3 separate regions of the Homo sapiens genome follow, and regions 2 and 3 are each reported to be linked to region 1. Evidence: microRNA targets listed by miRTarBase, many of them from high-throughput screens and not tested one by one. Region 1 holds a microRNA gene; each other region holds the end of a gene's coding sequence.
What was found. Region 1 holds the annotated microRNA hsa-miR-4761-5p (ACAAGGUGUGCAUGCCUGACC, at 2,666-2,686, shown strand). A microRNA usually pairs through its seed, bases 2 to 8, with sites in the 3' UTR of a target mRNA and lowers its output. Matches are read on the target gene's strand: a 7mer-m8 pairs with bases 2 to 8, a 7mer-A1 pairs with bases 2 to 7 and ends in A, and an 8mer does both.

Region 1 (4,000 bases):
AGGCCAGGCTGGCCCTATCCGGGGAAGGGGCTCAGGTATCTGGACCTTGGTCATCGCCAGGTTAGGGTTTATGTTGATGATTATCCAAAGGCAAAATTGATTTCCACAGAAATAACATCTGCTTTGCTGCCGAGCTCAGAGGAGACCCCAGACCCCTCCCGCAGCCAGAGGGCTGGAGCCTGCTCAGAGGTGCTTTGAAGGTGAGTTGGCCAACGGAAGCCGGGGCAGTGCCAGGGTGGGTACAGATTCCGGCCCGGTGCATGGGCACAGGTCTGCTGAGCACATGTCCACTCTGCCTGTGTAAATAGGCCACATGGCCTGAAATCCCCTAGAAGCCTGGTGTCCGCATGACCTCCCCCTAGGGCGGAGCCTCTGCTTCCCTGTTCTCTTCTGCTCTGTCCTCTGGTGCCCTGAGGCTGGCCTCCAGGGGTGTCCCCTCTGTGGCCCTAGGCCTGCCTCCTTGCCTGGGTGTGCCTTTCTAAAATGGAGCGTCCAGCAGAGAGTGGGATCTCCTATGCCACTGGGAGCCCAGGGCCCCATCCCAGAAAGACCTCTGAGTGAGCACAGGGGCCCTAGAAGAAGTTTCCTTGTGTCCTTCCCGTTTTAGGGTCTGTGACCTGAACCCCTGGGCTTCTGCCTCAGGCCTCCTGTGCTCTGCTCTCTGCCTGCTGGGTCCCCTCACCAGGCTTCTGTCTGGTTCCCAGGCTACCTGCCTGGAGGGTCACACCAGGAGGATTTCAAACAGGTTTCAAGTGGGGTCACTTGCCATCACTGTGCCCCACGAGGTACACTGTTGTGGGCGGCAGGGCTGGCCTTTCTCATCTGGGACATGCCACGTTGCTGTTCCCAAGGGGAGTGGTGAGTGGGTCTGTCCTGGTGTGCCTGGCCTGGGGACTGCCAGTGTCCTTACTTGGACACTCAATGAAAAGGCCACATGAATCCCTGGGGCGTCCAGAGCATGGGTGACCAGCACGGGCTCACCACATGAGGCCAAGGGGCTGCACCATACAGCCTCTCCTTTGGCCACCCGTGACTACCCCCAACTCCGGGCCATGGGGCTTCCCTACCCCTGGGTGTCCTCTAAGCCAGCTGGGAGACAACAGCCTGAGTCCGTGTCTGCTTCTGTATTTTGTGTGGTTTTAGAGGATCCCTGGGCTGCCTGGGGAAGCACCCAGGGCCAGGGAGTGTGACCCTGCAGGCTCCACACAGGACTGCCAGAGGCACACACCTGCTCTGTCTACCCGAGGGCACCAGAGGGCACGAGAAGGCTGGCTCCCTGGCGCTGACACGTCAGGCAACTGAGGCACAAGGCTGGCATTTCTGAACCTTGCCCCTCTGCAAACACAAGGGGGCGATGGTGGCACTCCAAGCAAAGGGGCGTGTGGGTGCTGCAGGAGGAGCACAGAGCACTGGCGCCCCTCCCCTCCCGCCCTGCAGATGCCGGAGGCCCCGCCTCTGCTGTTGGCAGCTGTGTTGCTGGGCCTGGTGCTGCTGGTGGTGCTGCTGCTGCTTCTGAGGCACTGGGGCTGGGGCCTGTGCCTTATCGGCTGGAACGAGTTCATCCTGCAGCCCATCCACAACCTGCTCATGGGTGACACCAAGGAGCAGCGCATCCTGAACCACGTGCTGCAGCATGCGGAGCCCGGGAACGCACAGAGCGTGCTGGAGGCCATTGACACCTACTGCGAGCAGAAGGAGTGGGCCATGAACGTGGGCGACAAGAAAGGTGGGGTCCGGGCCAGCAGGTGCTCAGCTCTGGGACAGGGACCCAGGACCAGGCATCAAAGCCCTTACAGGAGAAGCTGTTATCACCCCATTTCCAGGGGGCTGGGAACCCTGGGATATGCCCAGATAGGGCTGGGGGGCTCCTCTGGAGTCCCAGGGTGCCAGGGTCCCTGATGACCCCTGCAGGCCCTGCTGCCTGCTGCCCCAGGACAACAGGCCCCCACACTCACAGGGTCTGACGGTGGTGCAGTTCCCCTTGAACTCTGTTCTGGCCACCATGGGACCTGCCTGGGGACCAGTCAGACAGGTTCTCCTGGGCCCGCCTCCCGCTTGAACTTCAGCCTGGGGCACAGGATGTGTTACCGGGCTCACGGAGTGACTCAGGGAACTAGTGCCGCCCCAGGGCCCCAAGGTGGGCGGTTCGGTGATTCAGAGAGGGCAGCTCTGTGTTAGGACACACTGGGGCCAGCCAGGAAGGGTGGAAAAGATAGGGACCAGCGTGAGCATAGAGGCTAAGGGACCATGGGAGCTCCAAGCGCGCTCACAGTGGGGACCAGGTCCTGGGGGCTGGGGACACCAGGGAGGTGAAATACCCCTCCAGCGGGTAGGGAGGGTGGGCAGAGGAGGGCCAGCGGCCAGGCATTTGGGAGGGGCTCCTGCTCTTTGGGAGAGGTGGGGGGCCGTGCCTGGGGATCCAAGTTCCCCTCTCTCCACCTGTGCTCACCTCTCCTCCGTCCCCAACCCTGCACAGGCAAGATCGTGGACGCCGTGATTCAGGAGCACCAGCCCTCCGTGCTGCTGGAGCTGGGGGCCTACTGTGGCTACTCAGCTGTGCGCATGGCCCGCCTGCTGTCACCAGGGGCGAGGCTCATCACCATCGAGATCAACCCCGACTGTGCCGCCATCACCCAGCGGATGGTGGATTTCGCTGGCGTGAAGGACAAGGTGTGCATGCCTGACCCGTTGTCAGACCTGGAAAAAGGGCCGGCTGTGGGCAGGGAGGGCATGCGCACTTTGTCCTCCCCACCAGGTGTTCACACCACGTTCACTGAAAACCCACTATCACCAGGCCCCTCAGTGCTTCCCAGCCTGGGGCTGAGGAAAGACCCCCCCAGCAGCTCAGTGAGGGTCTCACAGCTCTGGGTAAACTGCCAAGGTGGCACCAGGAGGGGCAGGGACAGAGTGGGGCCTTGTCATCCCAGAACCCTAAAGAAAACTGATGAATGCTTGTATGGGTGTGTAAAGATGGCCTCCTGTCTGTGTGGGCGTGGGCACTGACAGGCGCTGTTGTATAGGTGTGTAGGGATGGCCTCCTGTCTGTGAGGACGTGGGCACTGACAGGCGCTGTTCCAGGTCACCCTTGTGGTTGGAGCGTCCCAGGACATCATCCCCCAGCTGAAGAAGAAGTATGATGTGGACACACTGGACATGGTCTTCCTCGACCACTGGAAGGACCGGTACCTGCCGGACACGCTTCTCTTGGAGGTGAGCCCCAACCAGGATGGCATCCGTGCCAGCTGCTGCCCAGAGCCCATTCAGTCAGCCTCAGCCTCTCCAAAGAGCCAGGCATTCCAGTAGAGCCCTGTGTGGACACAGCTCGCTCTGGAGGCACCACCTGAGGTCTGGGAGTGTGGGGGACTGAGGAGGCCCTGTGGTGGGTGGAGATGGGTGGGGAGCTGGGCCAGGGGCCTGGCTGGGTGGCCTGTTGGGAACTGGGGAGCCAGCTGCCTGTGCAGGTGCAAAATGGGTGGCAGAAGTGGGGTGCACACCCCAGACCAGACACCAGGGCAGAAACGGCACAGGACCAAGGAGATGGGGTGGGGAAGGGCCGCTCTGGGCCCAGCCTGCTCTCCCCCAAGCAAGCCACTGCTCGTGCAAAGAAAGCATGTGTCTCCTGCAGATCTTCCTCCTGAGGCCCCATCTTGTGCATTCCCCCAACCCAGCCCCACTGGCGAGGACCCTGAGTGCCCCGAGTGAGGCTAGACAGCGGGTGGGGCTGTCCTCGCTTCCCTGGGGGGCGTGGGGCACTGGTGGCCCTTCACAGACTGATGCTTAAGGAGCCTCACATCAGTGACACACTGCCCCATCCCTCCCTGGTGGTCAGCGACACTGAGTGGCTCTGTGATCCTCCACTGGGCTTGGGACACCCACCCTCACGGCCTCCCCACCTGGTGCTCGCTCACCTGCAGCTCTCCCAGAAACTGGACACTGCTGTTAGCAGCCGGACTAGGAGCACGAGGGGCACAGCCCCCATGCCTGGCTAGGTAGGGCCGCT
Region 2 (4,000 bases), not on the chromosome of region 1:
ATTTTGATGACCTCTTTCGTGCACCAAGTGTGTGCATGCTTGATACGTGTGTGTTGTTTTCATTAAGATGAATTTGTGCGTGCCGTTTTGATTGTAAATATCTTTGGGTACTCTGTCTTCCTTCTTATCCCTCTACTTCCTGCCAGTGTTAACAACCTGAATGATAGTATCTTCCGGTGCTTTCGTTTCCCCATTGTTGTATATGTTTTCTTTTTAAAGGAAGCCCTCCTATGACACTGAAACAGATCCTAGTGAGGGATTGATGAATGTTCTAAAGAAAATTTATGAAGATGGAGACGATGATATGAAGCGAACCATTAATAAAGCCTGGGTGGAATCAAGAGAGAAGCAAGCCAAAGGAGACACGGAATTTTGAGACTTTAAAGTCGTTTTGGGAACTGTGATGTGATGTGGAAATACTGATGTTTCCAGTAAGGGAATATTGGTGAGCTGCATATATAAATTTGACAGATAGCTATTTACATAGCCTTCTAAGTAAAGGCAATGAATTCTCCATTTCCTACTGGAGGATTTATTTAAATAAAATATGCTTATTAAACACTCCTGCAAAGATGGTTTTATTAGTACCCTGGTCATTTTGTTCAAGGAAGGGTTATATTGCATTCTCACGTGAAATATAAAAAGCAAGTCTTGCCCAATAAAAACGCTACATTGTGTGTATTTTTTGTTCAGCTAAGAATTGGAAAAGTATTTGCTTGCCTTTTAAGTTACTGACATCAGCTTCCACCAGTGTAAAAATTGAGTAAAACCTGAAGTTTTGCATAAAATGCAAATCGGTGCCTGTGCTTGAAGGTTGCTGTAGAGCATCTGACCCCTTATTACCACCTTAAGCAATGTATATGCCATGCATTACCATGCACTAATTCAATCACAGGTGTTTCTATCTAGATTTAAATATATTTGTCAATGAATGTGGAATAGAAAATCTAAACATGACAATAATAGACATATCTTTGTATGGTACCAGTTAGTTTTGCCGTGGATCAGATGGTTTATAAAAGTAATAACCATAAAGCAAAAAATAATTTGAAAGCCCGTCTATTCCTATGCTCAATAAAGTTAAGTTTTTCTTCATTAGAACAGTTTTATGATTTATTTGTCTAGGAGTATGTCAGAAAAATCAGGCTTTTAGTAGGAATTACTCCTATTCCCCCTGAAGTCAGGACCAGTGCCTGTGATCTCCATTACTTTATTTTCCTGGAGGTATTAGCCAACACAGTTAGATCAGAGAAAGCAATTGAAGCCAGGCATGAAGGCTGGCGCCCGTAATCCCAGCTACTAAGGCTGGAGGATCACTTCAGCCCAGGAGTTTAAGGCTGCAGTGAGCTATGATGATGCCACTGTACTGCAGCTTGGGTAACAGATTGAGAACCTGTCTCATTAAAAAAAAAAAAAAAAAAAAAGCCGTTAGACACACAGGAAAAATCCAGAAGGGTAAACTAAACTAAAGCTACAATTAATATGGGAATTTGGAAGAAGTGGTAGGATTTAAAATACAGAAACAGTTTATGTATAGGATAGCTATAAGTAAATACTGAAACACATTATGCCTCTGTAATTGGGGTTGACACATGAACAGAATAGCAGACACAATGCATATGAAAGTTACAGAATATGGTAAAAGTGGGGTAAAGATGGGTTTTTAATGATACTAAGATAACTGAAAATAGGCATATAGATATATTCCAAGCCGCCTGACGATCTAATTGTAAAAAGTAAAGCATACAAATACTAGAAGAAAATGGAGGAAAACGACATTATATGTGACTTAAAACCTAGAAGAAATAAATAAAACTATTGATCAATTTTAACTACATAAAAATGTTTATAGGACAAGAAAAACCCCACCATAACCCAAGGCAAACAATGTATTGACAGGATTCCAATAATTAAGAATACTTCATACAAAAAGAAATGTAAATGACCTTTAACATGTAAAGATGCTCACCTTGTTCAGAAGAGAATAAACCAGTGTTTTTACCTTTCACTTGAAAAAGAAGTATAAAAACAACTGTATTGAGTTGAGGCTGTGGAGAAATAAGGACACATATATGGGAATGGAATGCAAAAGTTAAACTTTGGTTAACAAGAATATTTGGGCAGGTGCAGTGGCTCACACCTGTAATCCCAACACCTTGGGAGGCCAAGGTGGGCGGATCACTTGAGGTCAGGAGTTCAAGACCATCTGGCCAACATGGTGAAACCCTGTCTCTACTGAAAATAAAAAAAACTAGCTGGGCATGGTGGCAGATGCCTGTAACTCCAGCTACTCGGGAGACTGAAGGACAAGAATCACTTGAACCTGGGAAGCCGAGGGACGAGAATCACTGGAACCCGGGAGGCAGAGGTTGCAGTGAGCTGAGATTGTGCCACTGCACTCCAGCCTGGGTGACAGAGTAAGACTCTTGTCTCAGAAAGAGTATTTGGTAATAACCATCAGAATGACATATTCATTTATCCTTTGACCCAGAATTTTAACTTCTTTCTGGGCTCTGAAAGGTACATTTAGAAAAATTTGGAATGCTATATGCAAAAGATTAAAAATACTCGTGTCTATTTAACAGGAATGTATTATGGTGCATCCACATGAGGGAGTACTTAAGTCACAAAACAATGAAGAGTTCTATATAACGTAAAATGGTCTCCAGGATAGAGTAAGTGGAAAAGCAAAGTGCAGAACATTTATGGTATACCCACTACATTTGTGTAAGAAAGGGTGAGAAATGTGAATGTATGCACATAGGTGTATTTGCTTATGTTTCAAAAAGAAACGAGTAAACCCAAAGCTAATAAAAATTGTTAGCAGGGGAAGGAAGGAGATGAGGATGGAAGCTATTCTGTGAATTTAACTTTTTCTAGAGTTTTGACTTTAGAACCATCTAAAATTTAACATGACTGAAAAAGTAAAACATGACCCTAAACCTATCAACACATTGTCTTAGTCTATTCCTGCTGCTGTAACAAAATGCCATAGACTAAGAATTTATAAATAATATTTACTTCTTGCACTTCTGGAGGCTGGAGAAGTCTAAGATTTGGCACCAGCAGATTGGTGTTTGGTAAGGGCTTGCTTTCTGCTTCCAGTACGGTGCCTTCTCGCAGTATCAGAAGGGTAAAAGGGACAAACTCTCTCCCTCAAGCCCTCTTAGAAAGGCACTGATCCCATCCATGAGTGTGGAGCCCTCCTGGCCTAATCACCCCTAAGGGCCCCACCTCTTAATAATACCAACGCATTGTGGATTAGATTTTAATGTGAATTTTGGAAGTACACAAAATGTTCAAACTATAGCATGTATATATATCAAGTTGGCAGTATAAACTACTTGCAAGTAACTTTAGAACACAAGTGTTTGCCCATTGGTAGTGAGATGGATTCTAAGTTGAGATATTAGCTAGAACATTCCAGTTGGTAAGTTGTCATACATATTTAAGAAATATGAATCCAAACTAGATTGTGATAATTCCCTCATAACTTCACCTCCACCTGAGTTTCGGACTCTGCTATCCAGCTGCGTACTAGTCTTCATCAGATGACACAGGCATCTCCAACACCGCATGACTGGAACCTGAACTCGCTTATCTTCTGTTTCCCCTAAATTTGTTCTTTTTCCAAATTTTCTATCTTGGAGTTGCCCTCTTGGAATTGCCCTCTACCATCTATCTAGACACTTTTATCAGGAACCCAGAGAACCATCTTTACCTCTTAGATATAATCAGTCTTGTAAGTCTTGCCCAATTTTCTTTCCTAAAACTTTAAAAATCTGTCCTCTCTCCTCTACTAATACCACAATGTTAGTTCAGGCCTTCATCTTCCTCAACAACTAAGACATCCTCCTAACTGGTTGTCTTGCCTGTAGCTTTTTCCTCTCATGGCCATCTGCCACACAGCTGTCACTTACCTGTATTACAAACTGATGATGTCATTCCTGTGCTTAAAACTCTGTAATACCTGGTATGTCAGTCTTAATTCCTTCACATG
Region 3 (4,000 bases), not on the chromosome of region 1:
GGAGCATTCTGAGAAATTTGCTTTTTGTGTGTTTGACATTCCTAATTTGGGAGTCCTTCAGCTGAATTACTATTCTTTTAGAAGTTGAGACAGCAGGTAAGCAAAGGACCTAGTTCATGTAAACATGGACATCATGATGGCTATTTAAAAAATATTTGTTCTACACCTTCTCCCCTGAGGCTTGGGGAGTGTGTTCAGCCGCTGCAGTTTCTCTGCTCATGGAGGTCTTGTTTGGATCTGTGCTGGCGGCTGAGCATTTAGTGTGAGCCAGTGACCCATGAACTTGCCGCTCTGTGAGGGCCAGAGTCAGGGCCAGTCATGGTAATGGGCCTGAAGGCACTTCCAGAACCTTTTATGTCTCTCGTGAGCCATCTGTTAAGAACGTTCTTCTTGGTGTGGTTTGTAGGCCTACCTGTCGCTATTCTGGGAAACCTTCTTGAGTGCTATGCAAATGTGTTCACAGGCAATGGGGGTGGTCCTGAGCCTTGGGGTGGGCACCTGGTCAGTGAGTGTCTTGCCCTTCCCCAGCTGGGCATACAGTACCTTGCTCTTTCTGGTGGCATCATCTGGCTGTGATGAATGAGGTCTAGGAAATAATTTGCATGTGTCTTGGGGGACACAACAGTAACGAGAGGAAATACATTATTACAGCAACTTGCGACGTACTAATACCTGTCAGTGTTGGCCCCCGTAAGGTATGTAAGGCACCTGTGAGTGCCAGTGAGTGCTGGTGAAAGGCCAACATGTACTAGTTATGTAAGTATTGGTGTCTGCTTTAAAAAAGGAGACCCAGACTTCACCTGTCCTTTTTAAACATTTGAGAACAGTGTTACTCTGAGCAGTTGGGCCACCTTCACCTTATCCGACAGCTGACTGTTGGATGTGTCCATTGTCGCCAGTTTGGCTGTTGCCCGGACAGGACAGGACCTCCATTGGGCGCAGCAGCAGGTGGCAGGGGTGTGGCTTGAGGTGGGTGGCAGCGTCTGGTCCTCCTCTCTGGTGCTTTCTGAGAGGGTCTCTAAAGCAGAGTGTGGTTGGCCTGGGGGAAGGCAGAGCACGTATTTCTCCCCTCTAGTACCTCTGCATTTGTGAGTGTTCCCTCTGGCTTTCTGAAGGGCAGCAGACTCTTGAGTATACTGCAGAGGACATGCTTTATCAGTAGGTCCTGAGGGCTCCAGGGGCTCAACTGACCAAGTAACACAGAAGTTGGGGTATGTGGCCTATTTGGGTCGGAAACTGCATGTTTCAGAAAGTTTGTCTCTTTTTCCTACTCATTATTTGAAGAAGAGAGAGCCTGTGGGGATAGCCTTATCTTGGTCCACAGGACTGAAGTGAAGTCACTTGGGAAGGGGAGACAGAGGATGAGCGGCGTCTGTGTAGGGACCCCCCCCCGGGCCTGCAGAAGGGTGGTGTGCTCCCAGGACTGGCATGACAGGTGTCTCCTCCTCACCACAGGCTGTGCCCATGAGTCCCTGTGCAGACCAGTGGGCAAGGCAGCTGGGCCAGATCTCAGGCCAGCCGTTTGTGCTCCTAGCAGGGTTGCTGTGCTGGCCACACGGAGAGGCCCTAGAGAGCCTCATGGATTGTAACTAAAGAAGAAACGGTTCCTTTTTGTTTTTTTAAAAATGATTTTTAAATACCGTTTTTTACACCGTTCTCTCGGTACTTTTTTTAAGCTAAGTCAGCATTGTCTTCCAGTGTTAAAGGCATCCCTCACCTCTGCATTGAACTTACGTATCCATGCCAAGGAATGGAATTTCCATCCTGAGCCAGTTCAGTTAGGTGTCAATTGATACTATTTTAATTTTTTATGCAATCTGATGAGATGAGCTCAGATTTAAAAATCTCAAAAGCACGTTTATTGTAACAAGAATTGTTATGTATTAATACTGCAGTTTTCAATAAAGATTGACTTGTGTTGCATATTGTGGTTTTCATGATTTCTCCATATGGGTTTTTGTCTAGAGGTAGCATGGCCTGACTGGGAGGTGCTGGGGCTTCTCTCAAGTTGGGAGATTGCCAGGGGTTTTGAGAAGAAGACCACCATGGCGTCCAGCCCCAGTGACCTTGGCAGTGCTGGAGTGTGGTGGAGGCAGCAGGTTGCAGGGGACCATTTTCCCAAGTGGGACAGGGAGGGAAGCAGCACCATGCTCCCCTTCTGGCTTCTGTGGCCAGGGTCAGAAGACCCTGGGAAGACACGTTCTTCCTCATTTCACCAGGGATGCTGAGGCCCAGAAAGATTACTGACTACTCACCCACCAAACTCACGTGGGCCAGCTCCAGTCAAACAAACACAGGGAAGCACTGGTTTCTGGGTCTTGAGTGCAAGGGAGGGCAGAGCTACCTGTATTCCCCATCAGCAACCAGCATGGCCTGGCCCTGCTCGCCTTAGGCGAACAACTGCAGCCAGCCCCGCCTCAGCCTATCATCTCCACTAAATCCCCGAGGGTGTGATCTGCGACAGGTGAGCCCCCACCCCACCTTTAGAGGCTGCTGGCCACAGGAAAATGCACGCACACCCACAGAAAACGGGCTAGCAGCCAGGTTACTTTTCATAAATTTATTTATGAAATTAAATGTGGTTTCTGGCTTGGAGAAGGAATAGTGCAAGAGTGACTGTCCATGCTGCTGAATCCTGTGGGCTCCACGCCAGCTCGCCAGGCCCTGGCTCTGCTCCTGGCGCCCCTTGGCAGGACAGGGCGCCATCTCCACACACCCGCTGCCTGGGCTGTGGGTCAGTCCTGTGTGCTGAGCCACAGAATTCGGTCTCTCTCTTATGGCTTCTCACGCTCACGAGCGTAAGGCAATCTTCTGTGTCACTAAGAATCAATTCTTTTTCTCCATTGTTTGTTGTTAGAAAAACAAGATGCCAAAATCCAAACAAAACCAGGAACGAGGTGGTTCTGGAGCTACCGCACAGCAGCAGGCAGACTGACCACACTCCCGACTGGGAGTATGCAGCCGACTGCACCGTCTTGTCCTTTTCCGCTACACACACACACACAAGTGAAGAGGGTGTCCAGCAGCCAGCGGTGTCTTGAGGGGCTGGGAGGCGAAGGGCGGGCTCCGGGCGCAACACAAGGGTGTGGAATTCCTGGCTTCTGCCCTCCCAAGTGGCAAGCTGCCTGGCACCACTGGCCGGGCTGGGGACTTGGAGAACTAGAGGGCAGAGGGGCACATGGCCTGGCATTGCAGGCCACAGAAGGCCAGAGAGTCCTGCCCAGAGGAAATGAAAGGAGGATTAGGTTTCCAGAGAAGAGGGTCCCACGCAGGTAGCGCCTTCTCCCCAGCTGGGCCTGGGCTGAGCTGCGGTTTCCCCGCTCCAGCAGTGAGGCCCTACACAGGTCCAGAGGGCGGATGGGGCCCAAGCTGCAGCGGCGGTGTGGCGAGTGCGGGGTCTGCCCCCTTGCTGGTCTCTTCAGGGCACCAGGAGCAGGGAAAAAGACAACAGGAGTACAGACCTGGCACGTCTTGGTGGCACAAGCAACTCCCCAGCCCATCCCTGCTCACTTGCAGGCAGAGGAAGGCCAGGCCGAGTGGGCCTCGGGGAAGAAAAACTGGGGGCCACTGGCAGGAAGGCCCAGCAGGTGCTGTCAGGCAGGGACCAGTTCACTTGCGGAAGGGTGCCAGCCGGCTGATGCTGTGCCAGAAGGTAGATGGCTTGCGCCTGGGCTCCGCCAGCACCAGGACCTGCTGCTGGGGCCGGTTGCTGGGCAGGGCTGGGTGCTTCTGGCGCGTCAGGTAGCAGGGCCGGCCAACAGCTGAACAGGGAGAGACAGCAGAGGGTCATGGGTGCCCAGGGCAGAGTGCCACCCCAGCTGTTGGGGACAGCATGGGGTCCGTCCCAGGGCTCTGCTTCAGAGCCGCCGTAGGAGGCAGTTTTGCCACACAGGACTTGCTCCTGGAGAGCTGACCACATCCAAGAGCTCAGGCTGCCTGGGGTCTCTGGCCTGGGCCTGGCCTCCTGCAGCAGCCTGAAGAGGGGGGTGGCCTGTGCAAA

Region 2: the mRNA of CACYBP is a reported target of hsa-miR-4761-5p. Seed matches in the 3' UTR shown: 7mer-m8 at 1,967-1,973 and 7mer-m8 at 2,153-2,159.
Region 3: miRTarBase lists ARHGEF4 as a target of hsa-miR-4761-5p. The part of its 3' UTR that is shown has no 7-base or 8-base seed match.

What each region holds. Positions count from the first base shown.
Region 1 is chr22:19,961,090-19,965,089 of GRCh38, forward strand. It overlaps MIR4761 (microRNA 4761), which reads left to right and starts at 2,664; the gene lies at 2,664-2,745. It overlaps COMT (catechol-O-methyltransferase), which reads left to right. Exons shown (of 6, transcript NM_000754.4): 2 at 110-200; 3 at 1,438-1,726; 4 at 2,477-2,670; 5 at 3,079-3,210. The coding sequence starts at 1,438. RefSeq lists enhancers at 1,005-1,720, 1,721-2,436, 2,437-3,152.
Region 2 is chr1:175,009,704-175,013,703 of GRCh38, forward strand. It overlaps CACYBP (calcyclin binding protein), which reads left to right. Exons shown (of 6, transcript NM_014412.3): 6 at 220-2,324. The coding sequence ends at 376. It overlaps MRPS14 (mitochondrial ribosomal protein S14), which reads right to left. Exons shown (of 3, transcript NM_022100.3): 3 at 3,255-4,000. Among named protein-coding and RNA genes, the nearest start is that of MRPS14, 12 kb to the right of the region's middle. RefSeq lists a silencer at 2,956-3,156.
Region 3 is chr2:131,045,799-131,049,798 of GRCh38, reverse strand. ARHGEF4 (Rho guanine nucleotide exchange factor 4) reads right to left here. Exons shown (of 14, transcript NM_001367493.1): 14 at 2,546-3,761. The coding sequence ends at 3,610. FAM168B (family with sequence similarity 168 member B) reads left to right here. Exons shown (of 7, transcript NM_001009993.4): 7 at 1-1,923. Among named protein-coding and RNA genes, the nearest start is that of SMIM39, 13 kb to the right of the region's middle.